Homo sapiens: one gene and its partners. The protein of the gene in region 6 purifies or fractionates together with the protein of the main gene of each other region. This does not show direct contact. Each region holds a gene or a part of one and is shown on either strand. Other genes may lie near its edges.

Region 1 (4,186 bases), on a different chromosome or scaffold from region 6:
TTTTCTTGCTTCTCTTCAGAAATAAACCTTTAAAAAGATGTATATAGGTGGGCTAAAAGAAAAACTATTTTTTCCCCTCAGGTGGGGGAATTTAAAGTGTTAAGGGCCAGGCATGTTGGCTCACATCTGTAATCGCAGCACTTTGGGAGGCCAAAGTGGGAGGATCACTTGAGTCCAGGGGTTTAAGACCAATCTGGGCAATATGGCGAGACCCTGTCTCTCTGAAAAATGAAACAAAAAAAGTGTTAAGGCAGTCAAAGTGTTGTGTCCCTGACCACTCACCTTGTTCTCTAAATCCCAGACCTGAACTGTGTTTCTTAGGGCCAAAATGAACTGAAACATAAATTGCCTGGACCTACCTCAGACTAGAGACACTCCTGAGTCTGGAGAACCAACCCAGGAGAAATAGCACAGCCATCTGACCCGAGTTATCATACAGTTCTTCTCATTGTCCTATTTTATTTTCTCTAAAGCACAAATCACTATTTTATTTTTTTATTTTTTGAGATGGAGTCTTGCTCTGTAGCGCAGTCTGGAGTGCAGTGGCACCATCTCGGCTCACTACAGCCTCTGCCTCCTGGGTCCAAGTGATTCTTCTGCCTCAGCCTCCCAAGTAGCTGGACTACAGGTGTGGGCCACCATGCCTGGCTTACAAATCACTATTTTAAATGATCGTGTTTTTTTTTTTTTTTTTTTTTTTTGCATGTTTTTCAGCTGTCTTCCTCCATCAGAGCGTAAGCTCCATAAAAATCAAGACTGTGTTATTGGCTGGGCGCTGTGGATCATGCCTGTAATCCCAGCACGTTGGGAGGCCGAAGCAGGCAGATCGCTTTGAGCTCACGAGTTCGAGACCAGGCTGGGCAACATGGCAAAACCCCCTCCTCTTAAAACATAACAAAACAAAAACCAAAAATTAGCTGGACATGGTGCTATGTGCCTGTGGTCCCAGCTACTAGGGAGGCTGAGGTGGGAGGATCGCTTGAGCTGGGGAGACAGAGGTTGCAGTGAGCTGAGACTGCACCACTGCACTCCAGCCTGGGCAACAGAGTGAGACCTTGTCTGAAAATAAACAAATAAAAAATAAAATTAAGTATTTTAAACACTAAGAAAAGCTCCCATTATCCTTATTAACACATCCTAAGATTTTACCACATTGCTTCACATTTTTTTTCTTTTTTTTTTTTAAAGGATAGAGACAAAAATATATAGGAGATGGAGAAGTGGCTAATGTGGCAAGTTTCTGAAAATAGACAGTCTTTATTAACTCATAAGACAAATGGTTCACATGCATCTCTTATATAAACTCAAACTACAGATCCCAGGCAGCACTGCAATAATAGACACGTGGACTGTTCTTTTCTTCTCTGTAAACAGCCAATGAGAGGCAGAGTTTACAAAGGTCTAGGATGACATCTGGTGTATTGACTGTGGCCAGTCTTAAAGCTAGTTTTTGCTATGTGGAACATGCTGCTCTAATTCAGATTTAAAGAGTTTCTTCCTGTTAATTCGAAGCTCACTGTGCCTCTTGTTTCCGAGGGAAGAAGGACTGATTAAGTCATCTAAATGGATGCAATACTGAATTACAGGTCAGAAGATACTGAAGATTACTACACATTACTGGGATGTGATGAACTATCTTCGGTAAGACAGTGGATAATATTTTTATCACAACAGTATTCTTTTTCACAATAGTATTTCAAGTTTTTATTTAAGGTTTTAACTTTGAATTTTTAGTCACATTGCCTACAAACCTAACCTTGTGTTGTTTTAAAGCACTTTTGGCTCAGAGAAAGTTAAGAATTTAAATGTATGTTGGGATTTTACTTGAATAGTGTCCTATGGGAATTTTACGGAAGCTTCTGATTAAATATGTGTATTCTGGCACATGGCCATATGCTGTTTCACAATATAGTATATTAAAAATAAATATTTGAAATTTTATTGTAATTTCTGATGGCAGTGTTTCACAGTATATATAAGCTATACCTTTATTATGGTGACTCATAATTGAGGTGAAATGAAATTTCTTATAAAATTAGGGATTTTAATATATTTTATTAAAATGTGTACTCCTATGTGAGCAGTCAAAATAGAAACAAAGAAGCATCCCTTTATGTTAATATTTCAAATTGTGTGACAGAAATTACTTCTTGAAAGGGTGGCTTCTGAAACAAAACATGTGAAAACTCTGTAGCTGTTCACTGGATCTGTAAGAAAACAAAATTTTTAAAGTTCTCAATAAACAATTATAAAGGTTGTAGAGGTTTTTTAAATTATGGAAAAATCATTTATAATTCTCTCTCCCAAGGATAACAGTATTAATATTTTGGCATATTAATCTCCACTATTCTTTCTATGTATATTCTTTAAAGACCTGTTTGGGAGGATATTATATGTACTTGTTGATTCCTGCTTTTTACCCATTCGTATTATAACAAGGAATTTTCCATGCTATTAAACTTTCCTTGTACACTTTTTAGTGGTTGCAAAATATTTTATTTTGCTGTGTTACCACAGTTGAATTATTCTCTTATTGTTAAATATTTTATTTCCAATTTTTCAATATTTCAAATAATGTTGAGATTAATATAAAATATATTCATTATTAAATTATATATTATTAAATCATGTTATTAGGATATATTTATGTTTTATAATTAATGTATTTTATTTTATTTATTTTTATTAAAATCTAAGTAGTAAAATTAACATTGTAAAGCAAAATGTTTTTATATTTATTGTTGTTTCATAAAGGCAGTAGTTCATTAATAAAATGTGCTTAGTTTTGTTTTAAGAATAGAATGCATTACTGGACACAAAGGATTAAAATCTCTATTTTTGCCATGCTGAGGAAGTTATCTTAGACACGTTGAAATTAAAAAAACTGCCCCGCCCCCAGAATAGCTTATAATGGTCTTTTAGTTGCATATTTCTTCTCAAGAATGTGTTATTCTTGTTTATGTTGGTGGTGATTTGCTTATAGCAATTGAGAAAGCTTATTACCATTTTTACCATGTGTTATTCACAGTTGAAATTATACTATTATCAAACAATTTTTGAAGGAATAATTTAAAATCAAAGGAATATAATTTAACTTGATAAGGCTGACAATTTGGATTTAAAAAAATACATGCTAGCTTATACAGTAAGGGTCATTATATCTCCATAATCTTGTGACCTATTTAGTCAGTCCTTTTTTTTTTTTTTCAATTTTACTTTAAGTTCTGGGATCCCTGTGCAGAATGTGCAGGTTTGTTACATAGATACACATGTGCCAGGGTGGTTTGCTGCACCTATCAACCCATCATCTAGGTTTTAAGCCCCGCATACATTAGGTATTTGTCCTAATGCTGTCCCTCCCCTTCTCCCCCACCCCCCGACAGGCCCCGGTGTGTGATGTTCCCCTGCCTGTGTCCATGTGCTCTCATTGTTCATCTCCCACTTATGAGTGAGAACATGTGGTGTTTGGTTTTCTGTTCCTGTGTTAGTTTGCTGAGAATGATGGTTTCCAGCTTCATCCATGTCCCTGCAAAGGACATGAACTCATTCTTTTTTATGGCTGCATAGTCAGTCTTTTGAAGTTATGCTGTTGTCTTTTCAATCTACATAGAAGGAGGATTCATTTTGGACAGCCTTACAGAAAATAATCTCGTTGTTAATGTGTAATATTCAAAATATGGTTACCAGGTGGAGTCATACTTCCTTGTCTCAACATTCCTTTTACTGGATGTATTTTACTGGTCTGTCAATGGCATATCATATCTAGATAACAATTATTTATTTTTAATGAAATGTTTGTCATAATATTGTCACTTCTTTATATATATGTGTGTGTGTGTGTGTGTGTGTGTGTGTGTCATTTTTTCTCTCTTTTTTTTGTTTTTTTGAGATGGAGTCTCACTCTGTTGCCGGGCTGGAGTGCAGTGGTGCAATCTCAGGTCACTGCAACCTCCGCCTCCCAGGTTCAAGTGATTCTCCTTCCTCAGCTTCCTGAGTAGCTGGGACTACAGGCACATGCCACCATGCCTAGCTAATTTTTGTATTTTTAGTAGAGACGGGGTTTCACCGTGTTGGCCAGGATGGTCTTCATCTCTTGACCTCGTGATCTGCCTACCTCGGCCTCCTAAAATACTGGGATTACAGACGTGAGCCACCGCACCTGGCTTTTCTCTTCTTTTTATAGGTA
Region 2 (4,301 bases), on a different chromosome or scaffold from region 6:
AAACCAGCCTGGGCAACACAGCAAGATCCTCATCTCTACAAAAAAATAAAAATTAAAAAAAATCTACTGTTGTATGGTCACAATTTTACTGGTGCCTTATGTGGAAGAACATTTCCTTTTTTAAAAATAACTGCTTTCCTTTTATTTATGAAGTTATACATTGTCATCATATAAAACTTAGAAACCACATATGCACACCACAGAGGAGACCTGCTCATCATCCACCACTGAGAATGAACCGCCCTTCTGTTTCAGTTTTCTCCAGGAGAATGCTGTTCAGATGCAGCTGGCAGTGCTACCTCTCGTCAGCAGACATGCTGCACTGAAACTGTAGATGCTGCTTATGATCCAAGATTTAGCTTTTCTTTCATTAGCAAAAAGCAGAGTATTGGAAGAGGTTGTCTGAGCCAGATGAACTTGAGGAGTTTTAGGAAGGGTCGGAAATGTCTGCGAAGATGCAAGGGAACCCACCTTTCTCTGTCCAAATCTTCCCAAAACATCAGACTTTGCCTCTTTGTTGGTCTTGCCTTGGGTATTTATTATATAGAGACTAAACAGAATTTGGAAACCACTGGGATGTTTAGCTATCCCTGCTTTGAATGTTGATTTATTTTATACCACTTAAAATTATTATATAAGCTTCAAGATTGCAAAGGGCAGTCTTAGTTATTTCAGTAGGAGTTTGAAACCTGATTGCAGCTGCAGGTCCCACACAACTGAATTCGGTTTCTTGTGCACAGCACTGTTCTCTGGAGGTGCCTGGAGGTCTGAAGGTGTGCCCTTTTATAGACAGGAATTCCACCATGATGGGTAGAGCTTGTTTTTTAAAAAGGCTTGGGACTAGATACGATTGCCCAAGAAGACAGTGTAGACAGCGAGGAGGGCTGAGCATGAATGGGATGAGCCTCCAGCACAGAAAGGGCAGGCAGGAAGGCAGTAAAGAAACAAGCAGGGCACAAACCAGGAGAGTATGGCATGCCATGATGGAGACTGAACAGAAGCAAAAACTACAGGCAACTGTAGTTTTGTTCCCTGTTGAAGGAGAGACACTCTATTAGAGAAGACCTGGAATTCAGTTCAGTTTCCTTAGCAAAGGACAAAATGGGGAGAGAAGACAGGGAAACAGTAAGCAGCCACGTGAGATTCTGGGGAAGACCTGTGTCTTCTGAGCAAAGTAGCCCCTCCAGCCACAGGATAGACAGTGACTTCTGTCTTGCATGAGTGAAACCACTGGATCTGGCTCTGCCCGCCCCTCCACTTTCTTGCTTCCTTAGCCTGTGAACAAAGTGAAGGACAGGTAAGAGCATATTGCTTTTCTGCTGAGAACAATCTAATACCTTACAGCTGCATTTTCCCACACTGCTTTCAGAACATTGAATTGCTGGGTGTCCTTAAGAAAGGGTTGGGAAATTACGTCACAGTGTCTCTCTCGTGAAGAATCACTCTGGGTACATTTATTTCATATAGTGTATGTGTTATTTAGTTCATTAAAGATGCGTAAGGCTGGGCACAGTGGCTCACGCCTGTAGTCCCAGCACTTTGAGAGGCTGAGGTGGGCAGATTACTTGAGCCCAGGAGTTTGAGACCAACCTGAGCAACATGGCAAAACCCCGTCACTACAAAAAATACAAAACTTAGCTGAGTGTGGTAGCACATGTCTGTGGTCCCAGCTACCAGGGAGGCTGAGGTGGGAGGATTGCTTGAGCTCAGGAGGCAGAGGTTGCAGTGAGATGATGCCACTGCACTCCAGCCTGGGCAACAGAGCGAGACTGTGTCTCTCAAAAAAAAAAAAAAAAGAAAAGAAAAGAAACCATCCTGATTAACCTTGTCTAATCCAGCACTCATCTTTTTTGAGCTTGGGCCCGTTTTTTTTTTCCATCCTGAGGAACAGTGTTTGCCTCTTACCTGTTGGGGAAATGCTCTCTTAGAGTCTACAAAGCTCTGACATGTATATCATGTCTCTATAGCCCTCACCGTGATCCTGTGAGAAGAGCAAGGCAGATGTTACCTCTCTTAGGGATGGAAAACTGAGGTGCCGATGTTGACCTGCTCAAGGTCACCCCGCTAAGGACTTGAAATTGTGTCCTCTGAGCTCCTGCCCAGTCTCCTTTCCATCAGACCACAGTTGGGGGTCTGGAATATTTTATAAGGGTCAGTTCTAGAGAGAAGATTAATCAGGAGCAGTGAAAGGAAAGAACTGCTTGTGAGAGCCTGTGGTGAATTTCTGCAATCACATTGTAAATATTTGTCTGTTCCCGGTTTCAACATGACCCAGAATGTTCTAGTTTGACGTTTGGCTGGACAGGGTCTTACATAGCAGGAGTGCTCAGGTACATGTTTGTTGAACATATGACAAATGGATGATTCTTACAAAATCCCATCCTATACCTATTACTGTTTCAATTCCAGTTCTACACATTCATACTACATGCAGAACCAGGGGCCCATGCACCTCCTTCTGTGCACTGGTCAATGAAAGTATTTATTGGAAAGCCAAAGTCCACTGCATATCTGATTTGACTGTGTCCTTGCACTATAATAATGTGCTTGGTGTTCATTCAGATGTCTGAGCCATTATTATATCTTAAACTCAATAGACTTCTACATTTATTGACTGCCACCTTTGTCCTGGCAAACTTGGCAGATCCTGGTTAATGCTCCTAATTGACTATTGCCTGTCAACAGGTTAACAGAGAGTCCCTGAGGGAGGCCAACTGTGGATCTGCAGGCTGGCTGCAAGACAACAGAAACCATTTTAAGCTTCAGTTCTAACAAGCTGCTAAGGAGTGAAGTGGGGGAAAGGAGTGGACTGAACAGCATTGGATGGTTTCCACACCCCATAAAAGCGTGTGCAAGTACATTTGTGTACCTGGTTCTCCTTTGCTAATGGTTTTAGGCTTAATTCTCTAACATCAAAAGGAAGTCCTTACTGCAAACAGTGTCTTCCTACTGAAAGAAAGCTCCACTCTAAGCCAAGTCTTCTGAAAGAGTTGCCTCTGGCCATGGTACAGAAGCTAGACCACCAGGGACTAGCAAACCAGGGCCAAGACTGGTGCCACCTTGATTTTATACTAATCTTTAACACTGGAAAAACTTGAGTACCCCTGAATATGGTAAGTCCATCTGTGCTTTTTTTTTTTTTTTGAGACGGAGTCTCACTCTGTCGCCCAGGCTGGAGTGCAGTGGCGCAATCTTAACTCATTGCAACCTCGCCTCCCCAGTTCAAGCAATTCTCCTGCCTCAGCCTCCCGAGTAGCTGGGACTACAGGCGCCCACCACCATGCCCAGCTAATTTTTGTATTTTAGTAGAGATGGGGTTTCACCATGTTGGCCAGGATGGTCTTGATCTCTTGACCTCGTGATCTGCCCACCTCGGCCTCCCAAAGTGCTGGGATTACAGGTGTGAGCCACCGTGCCCTGCCCCATCTGTGCTTTTGCTCACAGTTTGGAGAAAAATTGTTAGGGGATTATATCTCTACCTGAGTAGTTAGCTGAGGAGATTCCCACCCACCCTTAGGGGTTTTTGGAAATCTCTGAGGGTGATCTTGGCTGTCCAGTGAGAGCATGATGCTGGCATTGAATGGGTGTCAGGGAACCAGTTCAGTCCTTCCTGCCCAATGAAGGATTGTCCTACCCCCAAATGCCAGTCATGATCCCATGACACAACACTCTTCTAGGGCTGGAAGGGATCTTCTATCCCAACTCCCATGAACCAGGAACTCGCAGAGAAGCCTTTCTTCTGAAACACTTCTCAGACTTTTCCCCGTATTCGTTTTTTTTTTTTTGAAAGAGTCTCACTGTGTCACCCAGGCTGGAGTGCAGTGGCATGATCTTGGCTCACTGCAACCTCTGCCTCCCTGGTTCAAGCGCTTCTTGTGCCTCAGCCACCAGAGTAGCTGGGATTACAGGCGTGCACCACCAGGCATGGCTAATTTTTAGTAGAGACGGGGTTTTGCCATGTTGGCCAGGCCTCAACTGATCTGCCTGCCTTGGCCTCCCAAAGTGCTGGAATTACAGGTATGAGCCACCACGCCTGGCCTCCCCATATTCTTGAACTCTTACTGGATTCCAGTTTCACAACCCTGCTGGTGACATTTGGCTGCTGGTACTAAATCCATACATGAGGTGAATGCTTCTGTTTTGTATTTGTGCATTCATCCCTCTGCCTAGTTTAGATTTCCAGTTTAGCAATTTCACCTAATACCATTGAGCTTGCAGACTTGTACTGGCTTCACCCACTCCTGTGGCACCATTTTACCCTCGTCTGTGTTGCTGAGGTGGTAGGTCACCAGTTGAACTGG
Region 3 (4,301 bases), on a different chromosome or scaffold from region 6:
AAGGTACACCAGCTTTTGTGTACAAACTGACTTTGGGTCCTTGGGAACTGACGTTCTTGTCGTTGCTCAGATTCCCTCTGAGCCCCTCCCAGCGGGAGGTGTGGAGATTCACGGGGAGAAGGAGCCCTGTCCTGGATGGAGACTTGGGTGGATGGCGCTTACACAGAGAAGCACAGCCCCCAGGAGCTCAGTTGACCCCCGTCAGTTCCTCCAGGCTGTTGGCTGCATGCCAGGGATGTAGAGCAGGCCCTGTTCCCAGATAGAGCAGAGGGCCTTGCATACGTAATGGACCCCGTAGCCAAAGGCGGTAGGAGCCAGGAGGATGAGTGGCTGACTTGGTCTGGAGTTGGGAAAGGAATCATAGGAAATGCAGGGTTGGGCTGGTTCCAGAAGGAGTTTGCTAGACACACGGGGCACAAGGCATTCCAGACCAGGAGACAGCAGGGGCAAAAGGCACCGAGCCAGGGAGGTGCCGGCTGCTTGGTGGAGGGAGGGGGCAGTGTTGCCTCGAGCACAGTGCAGTGGTCTTTGCATGCCAGGTGTGGAGCTTGTTCAGAAAGCACTGGGCAATGTGAGATGGGTGAATATAGATCACAGATTTTTAAAATTGTTGATTTAAGTTTGAATGCTAAAAAAATTACACATAAAAGACACATTAAATGCTAAGAATTAAAGTTAGCTTGGAGGTAACATATTCATGTTCTAAAACAAGGCCTCTTAATACCCCCTGACTCCCAGCTGCCCCTGCCAGGTTCCTGCCTGGTGTGTTTGATTCTCCGACTCTTGCCTCGAATCTCACTCATCCCAGATGAACTCCTTTCTCTGGCCAGGTGGCTGGTGTCCTGACTCAGACCCAGCCCCCCTCGCCCTCAGCTCAGGCTTTTGTTCTTGCCATTCTCCCCATGTGGAGAGCCAAAGTCACTGAGAATGGCTCCTCTTCAGGGTGAAGGTCCAGCCAAGTCCCCTCTTCAGAGGCACTGGTGACTGCGTCCTGCCTCCCAAGCTCCCTCTTCTTCGTGGCTGTTGCGTCTGCTCTGCATGGTCTCCCTTGATCACACTTGATCTCAGAGCACCCCATGATTTCGTGCCTGTCCCATGGGCCAGCTCTGTGCACTTCTGACTGTGCAGTGCCTCATGCCGGGAACAGATGTTACAGTGAGACAAGCTCCATACGAGCCAGCCATTGCTGTCCCCCAAGCCAGCCAAGGCCGGGCATGTTTCCACACTCACCAGTGGGTTCGTTCAGTCAACAGGAGGCTGGGATGAAACACTTCACCTTTTGAGAGAGAGTATAGTTACAAAAATCTGTATCAGAAGTGGCTCCATTTTGACTCAAGCTGTGTGTAGCTGTGAGTCCTGCCTACCAAGCATTCACACTGTAAGACAGGAAAAGAGAAAGGGGAAAAGTGTCTGCTGTTCCCCGATGAAGGGTAGGAGGTGTCCCCTGGCACGCAAAGCCCAAGCGTCCCTGAAATGTCTGCTGGGCCCCAACAAAAGGTAGGTGCCCCTGGCATGCAAAGCCCAAGTGTCCCCTGGCTGTTGAGCAGAGTGTGAGCTCAGGGCCTGGCATTGTCCACCTGGCACGCAAAGCCCGAGCGTCCCCTGGCTGTTAAGCAGAGTGTGAGTTCAGGGCCTGGCATTATGGGCTTGTGTTTTCTTCCAGAGACACCACCATGTATGCTGTGTCTGCTGATAGCAAAGGCTTGGACACGGTGGTTGCCTTACTGGCTGATGTGGTTCTGCAGCCCCGGCTAACAGGTGTGGATCCCAGCCGCTGGCGTTTGAGGTGGGCTTGGACATAGGGAAGACCGGAAAGGTTTGCAGAAGCCCTGTAGCCATGAGGGAGAGCACCATGTAATTGGAGCTTTAGGCCAACACAAAGTGACAGCGAGATCTCATAAGAAATAGCGCTGGGGCTGGGCATGGTGGCTCACACCTGGAATCCCAGGACTTTGGGAGGCTCAGGCAGGCAAATCGCTTGAGCCCAGGAGTTTGAGACCAGCCTGGGCAACATGGTGAAACCCTGTCTCTACAAAAAAGATACAAGAATTAGCTGGCTGTGGTTGCTTACACTTAGAGTCCTAGCTACTCGGGAGGCTGAGGTAGGAAGATCGTTTGAGCCTGGGAGGTTGAGGCTGCAGTGAGCCATGATTGTGCCACTGCCCTCCAGCCTGGGCAACAGAGTGAGGCTTTGTCTCAAAAAAAGAAAGAAAGGAAAAAGAAATAGTGCTAGTAGCCAGGCGTGCTGGCTCACGCCTGTAATCCCGGCATTTAGGGATGTAGAGATGGGAGGATCACTTCAGCCCAGGAGTTCGAGACCAGTCTGAGCAACATAGCAAGACTCTGTTCTCCACAAAAAGGAAAAAAAACCCACTGGTGATTGTAAAAGTCCTTAGTGTTTGAGAGAATGTGTATTTGAGACATCTGTGCCCTCATCCCTGTGGGATGTTTTTAGCGAAATTGGTTCTTTGATTTCGGAAGGGCACCTCGGACCGTCTTTAAACAAGTGGAATGGTGTGTGCCAGAAATTTCCATTTCACTGTTTCCATTACCCTCCTCAGCCTTGCAGATGGCAGGACTTTGAGTCCCTGTCAGGGGTGGACCAGGAGAGGGGAACGTTGGCTTTTCCAGATACCCTAAGGGTGCAGTTTCACAGCAGCTTGCGCTTGGTGTTCAAAGGCTACAGTCCCACGTTAAGATCTTGTGGTCACAACTGATGAAAGGCGCCCTTGACATCTGTCTGTGCCTCTGTTTCTTTTTGGAGATAGAGTCTGTCTCTGTCACCCAGGCTGGAATGCAGTGGCGCGATCTCGGCTCACTGCAACCTCCACCTCCCAGGTTCAAGTGATTCTCCTGCCTCAGCCTCCTGAGTAGCTGGGATTACAGGCGCCCGCCACCGCGCCCAGTTAATTTTTGTATTTTTAGTAGAGATGGGGTTTCACAGTGCTGGCCAGGCTGGTCTTGAACTCCTGACCTCAGGTGATCCACCCACCTCGGCCTCCCAAAGTGCTGGGATTACAGGCGTGAGCCACCGCACCCAGCGTGTGCCTCTGTTTCTAAGCACCTTCATGTCTGGTCTCGTGTCCTCACAGCAGCACTTGGGACAGACAGGTCCAGTGTCTTCGGTGCCTTTCACCAGCAAGGAAGCCAGGGCTTAGCAGGCTCACGTGGCTGCTTCATGGCTGAGGCGGGATGTGAGGCCCAGGTCCCCTAGCTCCTGCTCCCTGTAGCAGTCCCCCTCACTCACACAAGCACCCAGTCTGCCCCTAGATGAAGGCAGAGGTGACTGCCAACAGCCACCAACAGGCGACACTCAGGCCAGCACACAAGCTGTGGGTCACTGCTGTGTTCCTCATCTCTGCCTGTGCAGACTCAGCCCTGGCCTTTGGGTTCTCTTGCAGATGAAGAAGTCGAGATGACGCGGATGGCGGTCCAGTTTGAGCTGGAGGACCTGAACCTGCGGCCTGACCCAGAGCCACTTCTCACCGAGATGATTCATGAAGTAAAATGTCAAACTCGAGAATGCCCCCGCATCTCGAACAGTGGTCCTCGGGACACCAGGGGTGGTGGGGAGGGTGCCTCCGTGATGTTGTCCTTGCAGGTTATGGATATATACAGAACATTTTTTTGTTTTTTGAGATGAGGTTTCTCCACATTGCCTACGCTGGTCTTGCACTCCTGGGCTCAGCTCAGGTGATCCTCCTGCCTCTGCCTCCCAAGTAGCTGGGATTACAGGCGTGAGTCACCGCACTCAGCTTAGAACATTCTTGATTTCTGAGTCTGCTGTTTATACAATGTTCGTATTTTCCAGTTTTTATAGTAACTAGGTCTTTACTACTAAACACAATTAATCTTAGGCTTTTTGTGAATTTGTATTCTGGAGAGGCAGATTTTACTCTTTATAAATACGCACGCAGCTGCTATTGCCAGAGTGCAAGTAAAATATCAGCTTGCGTCGGATTTTCCCAGGGCTGGCTGCAGATGGGCGCTGGTGCTGCTTGTTGGAGGAAGCCTGGTCATGCTGTCTTCAGTCACCTGTGTCTGTGGCTCTTCCCCATTAGGCGGCTTACAGGGAGAACACAGTTGGCCTCCACCGTTTCTGCCCCACAGAAAACGTAGCAAAGATCAACCGAGAGGTGCTGCATTCCTACCTGAGGAACTACTACACTCCCGACCGCATGGTGCTGGCCGGCGTGGGCGTGGAGCACGAGCATCTGGTGGACTGTGCCCGGAAGTACCTCCTGGGGGTCCAGCCGGCCTGGGGGAGCGCAGAGGCCGTGGATATTGACAGATCTGTGGCC
Region 4 (4,301 bases), on a different chromosome or scaffold from region 6:
GAGATGGGGTTTCGCCATACTGCCAGGCTGGTCGTGAGCACCTGGCCTCAAGTGATCTGCGTGCCTCAGCCTCCCAAAATGCAGGGATTACAGGAGTGAGCCACCGCACCTGGCCCAAGTTTTCTTTTTTTAATAAACTGATTGAGAAGTGAACATCTTAGCTGCCACAGGGTGGCCGAATCAGAAAGTTAGGTTTGCTGTTAAATATGCTGGCTTAGAGAAGTACTGCTGAAAACACTGATCCCCCAGGTCCCTTAGAATCAGAGAGTCTGATTTAATTGTTCTGGGTGGACACAAGGAATTGGCATGTTTTAAAAGCTCCACCATTGATTCTTATGTGGCTCAAGTGTGGGTTTCAATACTTCCTCCTTTTAACATTGTGAAACGAGTAATTTTTCTTCCAACATTTTATTATGAAAAATTTCAAGCATAGAGAAAAGCTGAAAAAAAATTTTTTTTTTTTTTTGAGACAGGGTCTCACTTTGTCATCCAGGCTGGAGTGCAGTGGTGCAATCATAGCTCACTGCAGCCTCAACCTCCTGGCTCAAGCGATCCTCCTGCCTCAGGCTTCCAAATAGCTGGAACTACAGGTGTGCACCACCACTCCTGGCTAGTTTTTGTGTTTTTTGTAAAGACAGAGTTTTGCCACATTGCCCAGGCTGGCCTCGACCTCCTGGGCTCAGGCAATCCTCCCTCCTTGGCCTCCCAAAGTGCTGGGATTAGAGTGAGCCACTGCACCAGGCTTAAAATTTTTTTTTACAGTGTACATCTCTAACCATCCATCACTTCATCTTTTTTTCTTTTGAGATGGAGTCTCACTCTGTTGCCCAGGCTGGCGTACAGTGGCACAATCTTGGTTTACTGCAACCTCTGCCTCCTGGGTTCAAGCGATTCTCTTGCCTCAGCCTCCCGAGTAGCAGTAGCTGGATTTACAGGCGAGTGCCACCACACCCAGCTAATTGATTTTTAAAAGATTTTTAGTAGCGATGGGGTTTCACCATGTTGGCCAGGCTGGTCTCGAACTCCTGACCTCAAGTGATCCACCTGCCTTGACCTCCCAAAGTGCTAAGATTACAGGTTTGAGCTGCTGTGTCCGACCTATTCTTTTTTTTTTTTTTTTGGGTGGGGGTCTCGCTATGTTGTCCAGGCTGGTATTGAACCCTGGCTAAGGTGATCCTCCCGCCTCAGCCTCCCAAGTAGCTGGGCCTACAGACGTGCACCATCATGCCTTGCTGTAATTGTTCTATTTTATTATTAGTTATTATTGATTTATTAATGTGCCTAATTTATAAATTAAACTCTATCATAGGTGCGTATGTATAGGAAAAAGCATAGTGTGTAGGGTTCTGTACTATCTGCGGTTTTAGGCATCCACTCCGGGTCTTGAAATGTATCCCAGGCAGATAAGAGGTGTTTACTATAGTTTTGAGTAATGAAGGGAAAGAACTTGGGAACCAAATGGAAAAGAAGCTGAGAGCTTACTTGCCACCAGGGGGCAGTGTAGGCCGTGGGAACTCCAAGGCCAGCAAGCTGAATGCTTTACAGGATTCCTTCTGGGTTATGTTTCTTTGATGGGGGTAGTTTCAGGTTTAGCTGCTGCAGGCAACAGATGAAAGAAAAGCTCTGGGGATGTGTCACAGACATGATGCATCATGGAAGGGAAGAATGAATTTGTTGAAAGAATTTGGGGTTAGGCAGGCTGGGCTGTTGCGGAAATCACTCGACAAGTTTCAGGGACAATGAAGGCTGCTTTAGGTCAAGATGTTATATGTTCCCCACCCACAATTTCTTATTTTGAATTTTTTAAAATCTACATTGAAATAATAGTACAAAATATAACAATACACAAGCACAGGCCGGGCGCGGTGGCTCACGCCTGTAATCCTGGCACTTTGGGAAGCCGAGGTGTGCGGATCACCCGAGGTCAGGAGTTTGAGATCAGCCTGGCCAACATGATGAAACCCCGTCCCTACTAAAAATACAAAAATTAACCGGGCATGGTGGCACGCTCCTGTAATCCCAGCTACTCAGGAGGCTGAAGCATGAGAATCACTTGAACACCCAGGAGGTAGAGGTTGCAGTGAGACGAGATCGCACCACTGCACTCCAGCCTGGGCCACAGAGCAAGACTGTCTCAAAAAAAAAAAAAAAAAAAAAAAAAAAAAACAAGCACAAATTTCATCAGCCATCAGAGCAATTATGTCACTATAGGTCATGAAACTTTTAGAACCGCGCCCCTCTCCCCCAAATGTTTTTGGGGAATGCGAGTGAAAATGGGCAAAAAGTCCAAAAATCGTTTTGATTTTGCAGAATGTCAGGGTTCTCTAGGCTATACTTTGAGACTTCCTCTTTTACAAAACCTTTGTCACGTCTAACAAAATATGCAGTAACTTTTTTTTTTTTTTTTTTTTTTTGAGACAAGAGTCTCGCTCTGTCGCCCAGGCTGGAGTGCAGTGGTGCGATCTCGGCTCACTGCAAGCTCCGCCTCCCGGGTTCATGCCATTCTCCTGCCTCAGCCTCCCGAGTAGCTGGGACTACAGACGCCCACCACCACGCCCAGCTAATTTTTTTTTTTGTATTTTTAGTAGAGACGGGGTTTCACCATGTTAGCCAGGATGGTCTCGATCTCCTGACCTCGTGATCCGCCCGTCTCGGCCTCCCAAAGTACTGGGATTACAGGCGTGAGACACCACGCCCGGCCAATATGCAGTAACTTTATATCATTATTAAATATTCAGCTGTGTTCAGATGTCTCCAATTACCCGAGGAATAATTTTTACAGCTTTTTTTTTCTTTTTTCTTTCTTTTTTTGGTAGAGATAGGATCTCACCATGTTGCCCAGGCTGGTCTCAATCTCCTGGGCTCAAATGATCTTCCCCTCTCGGTGACTCAAAGTGCTGTAATTATAGGTGTGAGCCACGGTGCCCAGCCTACGGCTGTTTTTAGGAACCAGGATACAATTGAGCTTAGTGTTTGGCCATTATGTCTATTTAGTCTCTTTTGTGTGTGTGTTTGTGTTTTCTTTTTCCTTCTTTTCTTTTTGTTTTGTTTTCTTTTTTATTATTTATTTATTATTTTTTATTTATCAAAAATCTTTTTGGATCTAGAACAGTTTCATATCCTTTTGCCCCAGGATATTGACTTTTTTTTTTGAGACAGTCTCGCTCTGTCACCCAAGCTGAGGATATTGACTTTTGTTTTTTGTTTTTTTTTTTTGAGACGGAGTGTTGCTCTGTCACTCAGGCTGGAATGCAGTGGCATGATCTCTGCTCACTGTAACCTCTGCCTCCCAAGTTCAAGCAATTCTACTGCCTCAGCCTCCCCAGTAGCTGGGACTATAGGCATGTGCCACCACGCTTGGCATGCTTGGCTAATTTTTTTTTTTTTTTTGAGGCGGAGTCTCACTCTGTCACCCAGGGTGGAGTGCAGTGGCGTGATCTCAGCTCACTGCAGCCTCCGCTTCCTGGGTTCAAGCAATTCTCCTGCCTCAGCCTCCCGAGTAGCTGGGATTACAGACATCACCACCACGCCTGACTAATATTTGTATGTTTTGTGGAGATGGGGTTTCACCATGTTGGCGAGGCTGATCTTGAACTCCTGACCTCAGGTCATCCACCTGCCTTGGCCTCCCAAAGTGTCGCGATTAGGCGAGCCACCGTGCCTGGCTTCGGCTAATTTTTGTATTTTTAGTATGGATGGGGTTTCACCATGTTCACCAGTCTGGTCTCAAATTCCTGACCTCAAGTAATCTACCTGCCTCGGCCTCCCAAAGTGCTGGGATTACAGGCGTGAGCCACCGTGCCTGGCCGCATTTAATACATTTAACCTACTGAACATTATAGGTTAGCCTACTTTACCTTAAAGTGGTCAGAACATTTACATTAGCCTACAGTTGGGCAAACTCATCTAACACAAAGCCTTGTATTTTATACAAGAGTGTTGAATATCTCATGTAATTTATTGAATACTGAATTGAAAGTGAAAAACAGAATGGCTGTATGGGTGCATGGAATATGATTTCTATTGAAAGTGTATCACTTTTGGCTTGGTGCAGTGGCTCATGCCTGTAATCCCAGCACATTGAGAGGCTGAGATGGGAGGATTGCTTGAGGCCAGGAGTTCAAGACCAGGCTGGTCAACATAGTGAGAGCCCATCTTTACTGAAGAAAAAAAAAGACAAATGAAAAAAAGAAATAAAATGTATCACTTTCACATTATTGTAAAGTCAATAAATTGTTAGTCATCGGGCACATCACACCTGTAATCCCAACACTTTGGGAGGCTAGTGTGGGCAGATTGCT
Region 5 (4,274 bases), on a different chromosome or scaffold from region 6:
CACTCCAGCCTGGGCAACAGAGCAAGATTCTGTCTCAAAAACAAAACAAAACAAAAAAACCCCAAAACCACAACAACAAAAACAAACAAAAACAAAAACAAAAAAAGTTGTCAGCCCAATAAGAAGAATGAGTTCTTGACCTAAAGCGATCCTTAAGAAACCATATCCAAGTAATCATGGGAACCACAGTTTCTGGTACCCAGTTTTTTTAGGCAGTCATATGTTGGAAATTGGCAATGAGAAGGCAGGCAACATTAGAGCAAGTCATGACAGTCCCAAAGCCCTGACCCATGTGTGGAAAAGGAGAATCGGAACAGCCTTTCTTATATGGCTGTTTGGAATTACTTATTATTACTTTATTAATAAGTCTCCTACATCTACAACATTTTTACAGAATGCTTTCTCCAACTTGTAGCCTTCACGGAAACTTGGCTCTCTCTTAAGGAGAGCTTACACATAGAGGCTGTTCGTTCCCCCACACTCCACATCACAAGGCCAGGAGGAGGTGTTGGCATTCTGCAAGCTTCTTGAGGTTACTGGTCTGCTGCTTCCAGATTCTTGTACTTTCATTCTCTTCTGAGGGACATCAGAGGAGTCCTATATTCCTACGAATCACTGTTTTGAGCCACCTCCTGGCTACTCCTCCTGATTCACTGAAGACCTTGGAACCTGGCTCATACTTTTCCTCATCTTGTTATCTCCTAAACCTCTCCTCCTACCTCAATTATTCTACTTGTTGGTCACAATTTTCCATCCCTTCAGCTTTCGCTCAGTCTGTCTCCTATGCTTGCTTTCAATTTTCTCTGTTTATTTGACTAGCTGCTCCATTCTAACTAATTTGGGCCAATGGTAGAACACCCAAACTGTTCTTTTGCCAGTACCTTTAATTCCCTTGCACCCTACTCCTTCTTATGGTTAAGAGCTTGAGCTTTGGAGTCAGAGAGAATAGGGCCCCAGTCTTTGCACCACTCTTTACTAGCTGAGACCATTCAATTAAGCACCTACTATGTATCAAGTTGAGACAGTGATCCTTGCTGCTTTCAGAGTTTAGTGGCCAAGACAATTTAACAAGCACTAACAATAATCAAGAGTGACAAATGTGATGTAAGTGGTAAGAACAGTGCAGGTAGCGCTGGGAACATATGACATGTGCAATCTAGTCAGGTTGGGTTGGGTAAAGCTTTCTAGAGGCAATGACATGAACTGAGATCTGATGGATAAGCAGCTTCTTTAGCCTCCTTTGATTTGTCCTTGGTAAGCTCCCTCTTCAATCCAATCCCGCTACTCAACCCTCACGGTGTTCGCTCTCAGATAACCATCTTATGTTCTATTGTATTGCAAAAACAAATGAAGCCATTAGATGTGATCTTCCATAGCTTCCCATGAGGCATGAGGGCTCCCCACCACCCCCGTCCAGCCTATTAACATGCTTGTCCCATCCAATAGGTCCCACCTTTGATTCTATGTCCTCTTCACGCTTTTATCCGATTGCCATCTCTCTTTTCTCATTTAAATCTTTTGAAAGAGTGCTTTACCCTCTTTTCTAACTTCCCAATGGTATCTGTTTTATTTTATTAATTTTTTGAAATGGAGTCTTGTTCTGTCACCCAGGCTGGAGTGCACTGATGCAATCTTGGCTCACTGCAACCTCCGCCTCCTGGGTTCAAGCGATTCTCGTGCTTCAGCCTCCTGAGTAGCTGGGATTACAGGTGTGCGCCACCACACCTGGCTAATTTTTGTATTTTTAGTAGAGATGTGTTTTCACCATGTTGGCCAGGCTGGTCTCTAACTCCAGACCTCAAGTGATCCACCTGCCTCAGCCTCCCAAAGGTATCTGAACCGCCAAATCTCACAGTGCATTTTACGGTTCTTTTCTTCCCAGATTCCTCTGCCACGGTAACACTGTGGATCACATTCTTTTTCTTGAAACTCCCTACAACCTTGGCTCCTGTCCTCAGGTTTCCTCATACTGCTCTTTAAGTTCTTTCCTAGTCTCCTTTGTGGGTTCTTCTTAAGCCTGCTTCCTAAAAATTGGGGTTCCCCAGGGCTCTATCCTTGCCTTCCTCCTCTTCTCACCAGATCAGTTCTCCCTGGGAGGCTTCACCTACTCTCATGGTTTCAACTTCTACACATATGCAGATGATTCTCAGCTCTCTATCTGAGCCCAAGTCCCCTGGGCGTGGCAGTCATATGTCCAACTGCCCAGAAGACACCTTCACGCAGATATTCCACTTCATACTTAATGGTCCAAAACTGAATTTTATCTTCCCCCTTAAACTAGCTCTTCCTCTTGTAATGTCTTTCTCAGCTGTGGGTACACTGCCATCCACTCAGACATGCAGGCTAGAAATTAGAAAATCATCTTTGCCTCCTCCATCTCCTTCATCTTCTACCTTTAACCAACCACCAAGCCTCATCAAGCATGACTCCTAAGCATGCCTCAAGTGTGTTCCCTACTTCTCATCACCTTTCTATCAAGAAGTAATACTGGCTGGACACGATGGCTCATGCCTGTAATCTCAGCACTTTGGGAAGCCGAGGTGGGTGGATCACCTGAGGTCAGGAGTTCGAGACCAACCTGGCCTACATGGTAAAACCCCATCTCTACTAAAAAGACAAAAAAAAAAAATAGCCAGGCATGGTGGCGCATGCAGCTACTTGGGAGGCTGAGGCAGGAGAATCGCTTGAACCTGGGAGGCAGAGGTTGCAGCGAGCTGAGATCATGCCACCGTACTCCAGCCTGGGCGACAGAGTGAGAATCTGTCTCAAAAAAAAAAAGTACTGTACACTGTACACTGATGTTATTAATAGCTTAGGCTCTGGAATCAGAATAGCTGGGTTCCAATTCTGTGGCTCAGACAGACCCGGGCTCAAATTCTCTCTCTACCACTTACTAGCTATGTGAGTTTAGGCAAATTATTTAAAATTTATTTATTTTTAAAAATTTCAACTTATTTCTCTGTAAGAGGGAAATAATACCTACCTCATAAGATTATTGGGAGGATAAAATGAGATGGTGCACATAAAGCATTTAAGAACTGTGCTTACAAGATTAGAATAGGTACTATACAAATTTTACCTCTTACTTTCTTCTTCTTCTTCATCATCATCATACCACTACTATTCTAATTTGGGCTCTCATCATCTCTTGCCTAGATTATTGCAATAATCTCTGAAATGGTCTCTCTCTAGTCTTGTCTCACTGAAATCCATCCTCCTCACGGCCAATGGTGATTATTTAAAATTCAATTGCCTAAAATGCAACAGCTCCCCAGTGCAGAAAAAGCTCTTTCACGCAAAGCCCTCCACAATCAGGCCCCTTGCATAACTTCTCAGGTTCATCTCTTGCCACTTCCTAACTTGTACCTAACTGCTCTATCAGTATCGAGCTGCTTCTATTTCCTGGCACCAAACATGCTTTTTTGTGCCCTTGTGCTTTTGCTTATGCTGTTCTTTTTTACTTGGATGCTCTTCAGTCTTCTCTAGTCTGGTGAATGCCTCTTCATTCCATAAGATTGCCCATTCTGTAAGACCTTCTCCTCCAGAAAGCCTTTCCTGATGTCATCACTCTACTGGGCACCCTTCCCAGTATTTCCCACAACATACTGCGCAGATCTCTCTTACTACACACCTATGTGTTATGATTATGTATTTATGTTTCTGCCTAATACAGTTAGCCCCTAGAGGGCAGGGCCTGAATGTTGTTTACACATAGGGGACACTAAATGTCTCATTACCGGCTTATCAACAAACCTATATCCATCTTCTCTGTCTAATGTCCCCTTACAGGAGAAGTGAGTATGTTCCTAACGAAGGACAATCCTTCCACTTATGCTGTGTATCTCATCTACTCTGGGCTTTGCTCCTTCAGAGAATGCGTCCCTATTGGAACACTGCCATTAGTTTACACACACACTCTAGTACCTGCCATTAACAACAATAAAATATAACAAAACCATCCTGGGACTCCACAAATACCTGCTAATAACTGACCTTATTACTCAGACACTCACCTTTTAAAGTCTAACAATATATTCCGTGCTGAGTTATGCCCAAATTATTTTACTATGAGTAATACATATTTGTCAATCTTTTCTCATCGATAATCCCAGAGAGAAGTTAGTGTGGGAAAACAGGAAGGATGAGGAAGGGCAGAAGAGCAAATAGGAGAGATAACAGCTTTTAGGGTCAAGTTGAGTCAGCATGCTAACCTAGGCTTTGATACTAGTGCTTTCCCCAGAAAGACACACTCAGCATTATTAAACCTAAAGCAG
Region 6 (2,998 bases):
TCCTAGAAGGGGGACAGGGAACAATCACTGAATGAAACTAGAGGTGGCGCCTTATGAAGTTTGCACAAGGACACACAAGACTCACCTGTCTACAGCTTTTCACTAGGAAATGAATTAAATATAGGTTCTCATCAAGGTCACTGACAGAAAAGATTATGTGATGAAATTTATCTCAAGCTGTGGTCCAGCTAGAAAAGAAGATGAAAGCAAGGGCTTGCAAGAGGGAAATGAACATATTTTACTGATGGAAGCTGAGTTGTCTGCTGATAATCACAGCCATGTGGATTTAATGCGGTTTTGGCCCACACCAGAAGTCACTTGTCTTAAAGCCCTCTCAGACGTCATCAGGGGTTTGGGCTGTGACCTGATTTGAGAAAGGAAGTTCCGAGAATCTGCCCAGCTATGTCCACAAATCCACTGCTTTGGAGACTCTGGCGCATCCAGCATGTCCATTTCTGCCTTCTCCTCACTCTATAAAATGAAATGGGCTGAGCCCTTCAAAACGGGCAAAGCAGCCTCTGATGGCAATCTCTTGACTGTTCCTGGTGGATCTGGAGTATCTTCTGGCCAAGTCACTTCATTCAAAGGTGTGCTTGGGGACTATTTAACATGAGAACTGCTTTTCTGCCATTTTAGAGTGAACAACTCCTGTAGGAGAAATGTAATAGAATTTAAGTGTCTAATGAAATATCTCATCCTACATCATTTCCTGTGCTTTTATCTAGTTGGCAAGACAGAGCCTATTTATAAACAAAGACCTTGAAATATAGGCCTTGGAGAACTTGCCTTACCACAAAGAGTGCAGATAAAAAGAGGCACTGGGTCAGCACATTTCATATAAAGAGGCAAATGCTGGATTAAATAGAAATGGGTGGATTGAAAAGATGATGCAGCACTGATTCCCCTGGGACCCTGGGTCTACCCAAGCAGCAGTGAAGATGGCCGCTTGGCACTGTGTCTTCACCTTAAGGCTCACCTACTCCTGTTTTTACAGAGGAAGCTGGTGAAAGTCCTCTCTGGAAGGTGAAAGCATAAAATGTGGGAAGCTGCTACCTAAAATCTCCATGCTGGCTCTGCCATGTACTTGTTATGTAGTTTTGGGTAAATCGTTTAACTTCTTTGAGCCTTAACTTTTGTTTCCATACAGAGCACTATCATCCTCGTAATCTTCCCAAGAACTAATATCATTAAGTGCTTATGTATGCCAGGCACAGTGCTAAGTAACTTATACACAGCATATGAAATCTTTACAAAAACTATGAGTAGTCCTATTGTTCCTATTTTACAGATAAGGCAACTGAGGCACAGAGAAGTTAAATAACTTTTCCATGGTCACAGAGGCGGTAAGTGTCAGAGATGGGACTTGAACTGTTCTCTGTAATTATAAACGCTGCATGTTCTAAAGATATGCTAGTCTGCTTACCTACTTGAAAAATGAGGACAGTATAGCTGATGGTATAGATTGTGATGAGAAGCAAATGAAATGAGTGTAAAAGCATTTTTGTAAATGGTGCAGTATCTGTGGCAGGCCTGGCTGGCTTTGCACCACAGACTCCTGCTCCTCTTCTGCAGTAGAGTGCTATTGCTGGAAAGCAGCTGCCCAGCCAGAAACTACATTTCCCAGGCCCCCCTGCATCTCGAAGGGGACATGTGACTGAGTTCAGGCCAAAGGAATGTCACATGGCCATGACAATCTCCAAAGGGACTCTTCACACTCGGTTTTCCTTGTCTGCTTTCTGGAGTGTTCCTAGCTGGGGCAGCCCTGGAAGTCACCTTTTTGGTTCTGGTTGTGTTTTGTCTTGCTTTTTGTTTTTGAGATAGGCTCTCGCTGTGTCACCCAAGATGGAGTGCAGTGGTGTGATCTCAGCTCACTGCAGCCTCAGCCTCCGGTGCCCAAGTGATCCTTCTACCTCAGCCTCCCAAGTAGCTGAGACTAAAGGCACACATCACCACGCCCAGCTATTTTTTGTATTTTTTGTAGAGATGGGGTTTTTCCACATTGCCCAGGCTGGTCCTGAACTCCTAAACTCAAGGACTCCATCTGCCGTGGCCTCCCAAAATGCTGGGATTACAGGCATGAGCCCTTGCACCCAGCCAAATCACTTCTTGAAGATGGCAATGACTCCTTCAGCCTGGATACTTTAATAACTCTCTGGAGCCAAGCATCTTACCCACTCACCCTCTTAGACCTTATGGGAATGAGAAAGACCCTTCTATAATGTTAAGACTCTGAAATTTCTGCATTTTTCTGTTGTTACAGGAGCTAGCATTATTTTGACTAACATATGACTTTGTAAATGCTGTGGAAGGCAGCTTCTAAAATGGTTTTCAAAGATCAATCACTCTTGCCTCCTGGTAGTCACATCTTTGTAGAATCCGTCCCCCTTGAGTATGATCTGGACCCACAGCCTTACTTCTAATAGATAAGAACATGGCAAAAGTGATGGAGTGTCACTTCTGAGACTAGGTTACAAAAGCCTGTGGCTTCAGTCTTGCTCCCTTTAACTCTTTTTTCACTCTGATGAAGCAAACTACCCTGCTATGAGCTGCCCTCTGGAGAGACTCACCTGGGCAAGGAACTGAGGGCAAACTCTGGCCAACGGCTGATGAGGAACTGAGGCTCTGGGTCTAATAGCCAAGGAGGAAGTGCATCTGGCCAAGAACCATATAAGGGATCTTGGAAGCAAATTCTTCCCTAGTCAAGCCTTGAGATCACTACAGCTCGGCTGACACTGTGATTGCAGCCTTGTGAGAGACCCTGAGTGAGAGGATCCACCTAAGCCACACCCAGATTCCTGACCACAGAAACTGTGAGATAATAACTGTTCTTTTTGTTAAGCTGCTACATTTTGGGGTAATTTGTTAAGTGCTGATAGGTAAGTAACACAGATGTAAAAATGTATTATTTCATTAACACAACCTGCGTGCACTTTGATTCATTTGACTGTGGCAGGTGTTAGATAGCAGGCTAAGGAATTTAGAAACTAATCAAAGCATG
Region 7 (4,301 bases), on a different chromosome or scaffold from region 6:
CAGAGTCATAGGGAGCTGTGAGAGAATTTTCTGCAACACTGTTATTGTCTCATAGCCTGTGTCCAATAAGGGAGCTACTGGCCACATGCAGCTATTGTACACTTGAAATGTGACTAGTGGCTACAGAATTAGCACAACTATGCATATAAGCATAACTAAGCAATAAGCATAACTAAGTTAGCCTTAGAATAGGATAACTCCATCACCCCAACTTATATTTTCTGGAACAAATTTCAGCTCTCATCTCACTGTGACCTACACCACTGAAACTGCGTCACCGCGATTTTAATACTTCCACAACACTGCCACCTCTTCTACCCAGAAGATGCACAGAAATCCCTTCTTTTTTTTGAGACAGAGTCTTACTCTGTCACTAGGCTGGAGTGCAGTGGTACAATCTTTGCTTACTGCAACCTCAGCCTCCCAGGTTGAACCAATTCCCCTGCCTCAGCCTCCTGAGTAGCTGGGATTACAGGCACGCACCACCACACCCAGCTAATTTTTTTTGTATTTTTAGTAGAGATGGGGTTTCATCATGTTGGTCAGGCTGGTCTTGAACTCCTGACCTTGTGATCCGCCCACCTCATCCTCCCAAAGTGCTGGGATTACAGGCATGAGCCTCTGCACTGGGCCCCAGAAATCCCTTTTAAACTACATTTTCAACACACGTATCACCTGAGACAGTGGGCGTGACCTCTTCTGGTGGAGCGCTGGATGACATCTCACAGCACACATCACAGCACACATTATTTACCCAAAAGCCCAAGTGGCTTTTTTTTTCCTTTCTGAGTGACACCAACCCACCACTAAAATAGAAATGAGACACTACAATTTATGAGATTAGACTGCTGTTCCATTATGCTATTTTATCAGACATAAACGAGTTTGAAATTACCGTTCTAAACTGAAGTTATTTGCTGATTTTTAGGCCCGTTTTAATATTATTTAGGAGACATACATAAGCTGAAATGAAATTAGGTGAATGGAATCAACTGAAATTCTGTAGTGCTTCCCTTGGCCATTTCTAACAAATTCCTATGGCTCGTAAGTCACAATTTATTCCGCATAATATTAGAAAGTACAAATAATGGTGTAAACAACTAAAATGCTCTATGACGACGAGCAGAGATAGGAAAAACATACAAAGGAGACGAAAGTAGCTGACTGAGGTGTCATCTAAGGCCACTCTCTTCCTTTTAACCCATTTATGCTGGAGGTTGCAGTTTTTTTCGGTGAAAAATCAGACCCTGGCGGTGACCTTGAGCACTAGGATATAGATAACCCCCATAAGCTTAGCGTTCCAATAACGCAACACTACACAGAAATGGGTTAAGAAAAGCCAGAATAGTAGACACTGATGTCCTCAGGAGTGACTGGCAGCAGCTTCCCTACACTGGAAGCCTCCTTGCGGACACTGGCTGTGAGCCCCGAGGTGTCACTCACCTGATTTGGGTCACTGTAGTCACAGGCCTTAAGCACCACGAGACCTCCCTTCTGACTTGGGCGGCCCTGGGCCACCAGGCATTTGTTGGTCTGGAGGTGATAGAGCTGTAAGAGAAGGCACAGCTCAGAATGTGGGAAACAATCCCAGAGACGCCTCCCAAGCCTGGAGGTGGTTCCAGGCAAAATGTGAAAGGTTATTCCGGAGGTACGAATTCCAAGGCTCATAAAAATATATGCATTTTTAATTCCTAAGTTCTAGCCTCAGAACACAGGAGCATCAAGATAGACAAAAGTTATAACTCCAAAAGTTATTAGCAGTTTTAACATGCAGACAGTGTCAGCTAGGAATTCTAGCTACATATACATGTTTACTAATCTACAGCAGATGAAAGAAATTAAAATGTCATCCCTGCCCTAAAGAACCTTCAAATGAAGTCAGGGATATAAGAACAACATGTATAAAAAAGTACACAATGAAATGCAATATGCATGCTACACTGGAGAGACACCGGTGACAACTATCACAGAACTGCGAGGGTGAGACAAACAGCAAGAAATAATAATGGTAAGCGATCAACTACATGGGCACACACTGCTCTCTCCTACTTAGAGAAAAACACCTGACACTAAACATCCTGATACTGGGTTTGTTTTTGTCTTATTATAGGGTAGAGAGAAGAGGAAGGGGGAAAGCTCTAGGCTTCCTCCTAGCCACTGAGGGAGAGTTGACACTGCTCTGGGAGAAGTGCCTTCTTCATAAAAGAAGGGACACTGGGCAACACAGACAGTACCTGCCCTTAGCTTTTAGAAGCCAACTCTAAGAGATGACTCAGGAGAAGGGGATGATTTTATGGCCGGACCCCTACAATTTAACTGTGACTATATAACTGTAATGAGTTTAAGACACAAAGACAGCTAAGGAAATGTGGTTGATCAATGTGCTTTCTGCTGAGCTCAGATGACTTCTGGGAACACCAGGCATGAAATCCATGTCCCCACTCTGACCCTCACTACCACCTCTGCTCTGTGATTTGGTTCCCAGAGCTAAGAGCAAATAGCAGATCACTGCCCCATTTCTCCACTTGTTGGCCTGGCCTCTGACACACGAAGTTGACACTTCCATGGCCTCTGTCCGGGGTGTATTCCCATATGCCTCTGCGCTCTTGGAAAGCGTCACATAACTTACCCTCACAGAAGGCAGCTATGCCGGCAAGGCAAGGATCTACACTTGAGGTCCTACACTTGCGTAGAGAAGTTCCCATAAAGAGAATATAATGAAAGGCAAGCTGAAGCCTGTCATTACACTCTGTTAAGTCCACAGTGTCACCTGTCATAGCTTATGGACACCTCAAAACTTTTCATATCAAACGCTTTTCATAAGCCACTTGGAAAAAACAGCTTTCTTACCCTTCCACGTTGAAGGACTTTGGGTCGTTTTGGCCCTCTATTGACAAAAATGGGTTGTTGGGGTTTGGCGTGGGACCCAGATATCTGCATCTCTGGGTATACATTATCCAAATACCATTTAAATGATTTACAGCCCAACTTCTTTCTCAGTTCCACACGCTCACTGATATTGCCATAGCTTTTCGTCTTCAGGTCAGGTCTTAAGGAAAAATACTGCTCCTGAATTTAAAAAAAGTAAAAATAAGAAAATCGAATTTTTTGTTAAAAATGATGATACAACTATATAGAGATTTTTTACACGATTAAGTCCATTACTAACAATGATAATAACATGTACCTTAAACTGTATCTGAGAATCAATGAAACAGGCGTATATATGAGATCAGTGGGTCTCAAACTCGTGAGTCTCAGTCATCGATGTTCTTAAAAATTACGGAAAACTCCCAGGAGGGTCTGCGTGTGTGGGCTGTGTCTGTTCATATTTATCACACAGAAATTAAAACAGAGAAACCTACAAATTATTAATTCCTTAAAATAATTAAATACTCATTACAAACACAAAATGTAGTGAGAACAGTGACACTGCTTTCTATTTTTGCAAACCTTTTTGCTGGCTGGCTGGCTTAAAACAAGCCAGCTAAATTCTCACATCTGCATTTAGCCTGTTGCAGTGTGTTGTTTTGGTTAAATATATGTATTTTTAAAATTACAACCTATATATAATTATGGGGTTAATACTACTCCAAAATTCAATAACTTTCGAAGTCTAGTTACGATGTGGAATATGAAATCATATTAAGATTTTTACACTGTTGCATTAAAATGTACTGGTCTATCGGCCAGGCGCAGTGGCTCACACTTGTAATCCCAGCACTTTGGGAGGCCAAGGCAGGCGGATCACTTAAGGTCAGGAGTTTGAGACCCGCCTGGCCAAACATGGTGAAACCGTGTCTCTACGAAAAAATACAAAAATTAGTTGGGAGTGGTGGCGCATGCTCCTTGGGGGCCGAGGCTGCAGAATCACTTGAACCTGGGAGGTGGAGGTTGCAGTGAATTGAGATCGTGCCACTGCACTACAGCCTGGGCAACAGAGTAAGACTCTGATTCAAAAAACAAAGATAAATAAAGTTAAATAATATCTCCTGGTCTGTCTTGCTCTCTGAATGGATCTTCCACCCGTTTTTGTAACAGTGTGGATTAGTCATTTGGAAAATACTACTCCACTGGATTGTACTGTTCTACCAAATATTGAAAAATTTCACTATACAATATCAAAAAATTATATATAAAACCACTGATCTCCTCAGTAAATTTTTTTTGAGATGGAGTTTCACTCTTGTTGCCCAGGCTGGAGTACAATGGCACGATCTCGGCACACCACAACCTCCACCTCCCAGGTTCAAGCGATTCTCCTGCCTCAGCCTCCTGAGTAGCTGGAACTACAGGCATGC

Evidence for each region.
Region 1: the proteins of SUCLG2 (region 6) and DNAJC12 purify together in Homo sapiens (affinity purification with mass spectrometry; 3 studies listed by BioGRID and IntAct, with this or other methods). This does not show direct contact.
Region 2: the proteins of SUCLG2 (region 6) and SLC25A15 purify together in Homo sapiens (affinity purification with mass spectrometry; 2 studies listed by BioGRID and IntAct, with this or other methods). This does not show direct contact.
Region 3: the proteins of SUCLG2 (region 6) and PMPCA purify together in Homo sapiens (affinity purification with mass spectrometry; 2 studies listed by BioGRID, with this or other methods). This does not show direct contact.
Region 4: the proteins of SUCLG2 (region 6) and ETHE1 purify together in Homo sapiens (affinity purification with mass spectrometry; 2 studies listed by BioGRID, with this or other methods). This does not show direct contact.
Region 5: the proteins of SUCLG2 (region 6) and AIFM1 purify together in Homo sapiens (affinity purification with mass spectrometry; 2 studies listed by BioGRID, with this or other methods). This does not show direct contact.
Region 7: the proteins of SUCLG2 (region 6) and GALNT11 purify together in Homo sapiens (affinity purification with mass spectrometry; 3 studies listed by BioGRID and IntAct, with this or other methods). This does not show direct contact.

Annotation. Positions count from the first base shown.
Region 1 is NC_000010.11:67,835,389-67,839,574, reverse strand, and holds the start of DNAJC12 (dnaJ homolog subfamily C member 12), read left to right. Parts: upstream 1-1,386; 5' UTR 1,387-1,563; coding exon 1,564-1,641; intron 1,642-4,186. UniProt on the Homo sapiens protein: Probable co-chaperone that participates in the proper folding of biopterin-dependent aromatic amino acid hydroxylases, which include phenylalanine-4-hydroxylase (PAH), tyrosine 3-monooxygenase (TH) and peripheral and neuronal tryptophan hydroxylases (TPH1 and TPH2).
Region 2 is NC_000013.11:40,799,450-40,803,750, forward strand, and holds part of SLC25A15 (mitochondrial ornithine transporter 1), read left to right. Parts: exon of another isoform or gene 1-1,275; intron 1,276-4,301.
Region 3 is NC_000009.12:136,412,890-136,417,190, forward strand, and holds part of PMPCA (mitochondrial-processing peptidase subunit alpha isoform 1 precursor), read left to right. Parts: coding exon 1-3; intron 4-1,663; coding exon 1,664-1,758; exon of another isoform or gene 1,759-1,786; intron 1,787-3,401; coding exon 3,402-3,502; intron 3,503-4,061; coding exon 4,062-4,301. UniProt on the Homo sapiens protein: Substrate recognition and binding subunit of the essential mitochondrial processing protease (MPP), which cleaves the mitochondrial sequence off newly imported precursors proteins.
Region 4 is NC_000019.10:43,516,865-43,521,165, reverse strand, and holds part of ETHE1 (persulfide dioxygenase ETHE1, mitochondrial), read left to right. Parts: intron 1-4,301. UniProt on the Homo sapiens protein: Sulfur dioxygenase that plays an essential role in hydrogen sulfide catabolism in the mitochondrial matrix. Hydrogen sulfide (H(2)S) is first oxidized by SQRDL, giving rise to cysteine persulfide residues.
Region 5 is NC_000023.11:130,141,080-130,145,353, forward strand, and holds part of AIFM1 (apoptosis-inducing factor 1, mitochondrial isoform AIF precursor), read right to left. Parts: intron 1-4,274. UniProt on the Homo sapiens protein: Functions both as NADH oxidoreductase and as regulator of apoptosis.
Region 6 is NC_000003.12:67,375,858-67,378,855, forward strand, and holds part of SUCLG2 (succinate--CoA ligase [GDP-forming] subunit beta, mitochondrial isoform 2 precursor), read right to left. Parts: intron 649-2,998; coding exon of another isoform or gene 605-648; exon of another isoform or gene 3-604; coding exon 1-2. UniProt on the Homo sapiens protein: GTP-specific succinyl-CoA synthetase functions in the citric acid cycle (TCA), coupling the hydrolysis of succinyl-CoA to the synthesis of GTP and thus represents the only step of substrate-level phosphorylation in the TCA.
Region 7 is NC_000007.14:152,115,925-152,120,225, reverse strand, and holds part of GALNT11 (polypeptide N-acetylgalactosaminyltransferase 11), read right to left. Parts: intron 3,323-4,301; exon of another isoform or gene 3,188-3,322; intron 3,070-3,187; coding exon 2,851-3,069; intron 1,549-2,850; coding exon 1,444-1,548; intron 1-1,443. UniProt on the Homo sapiens protein: Polypeptide N-acetylgalactosaminyltransferase that catalyzes the initiation of protein O-linked glycosylation and is involved in left/right asymmetry by mediating O-glycosylation of NOTCH1.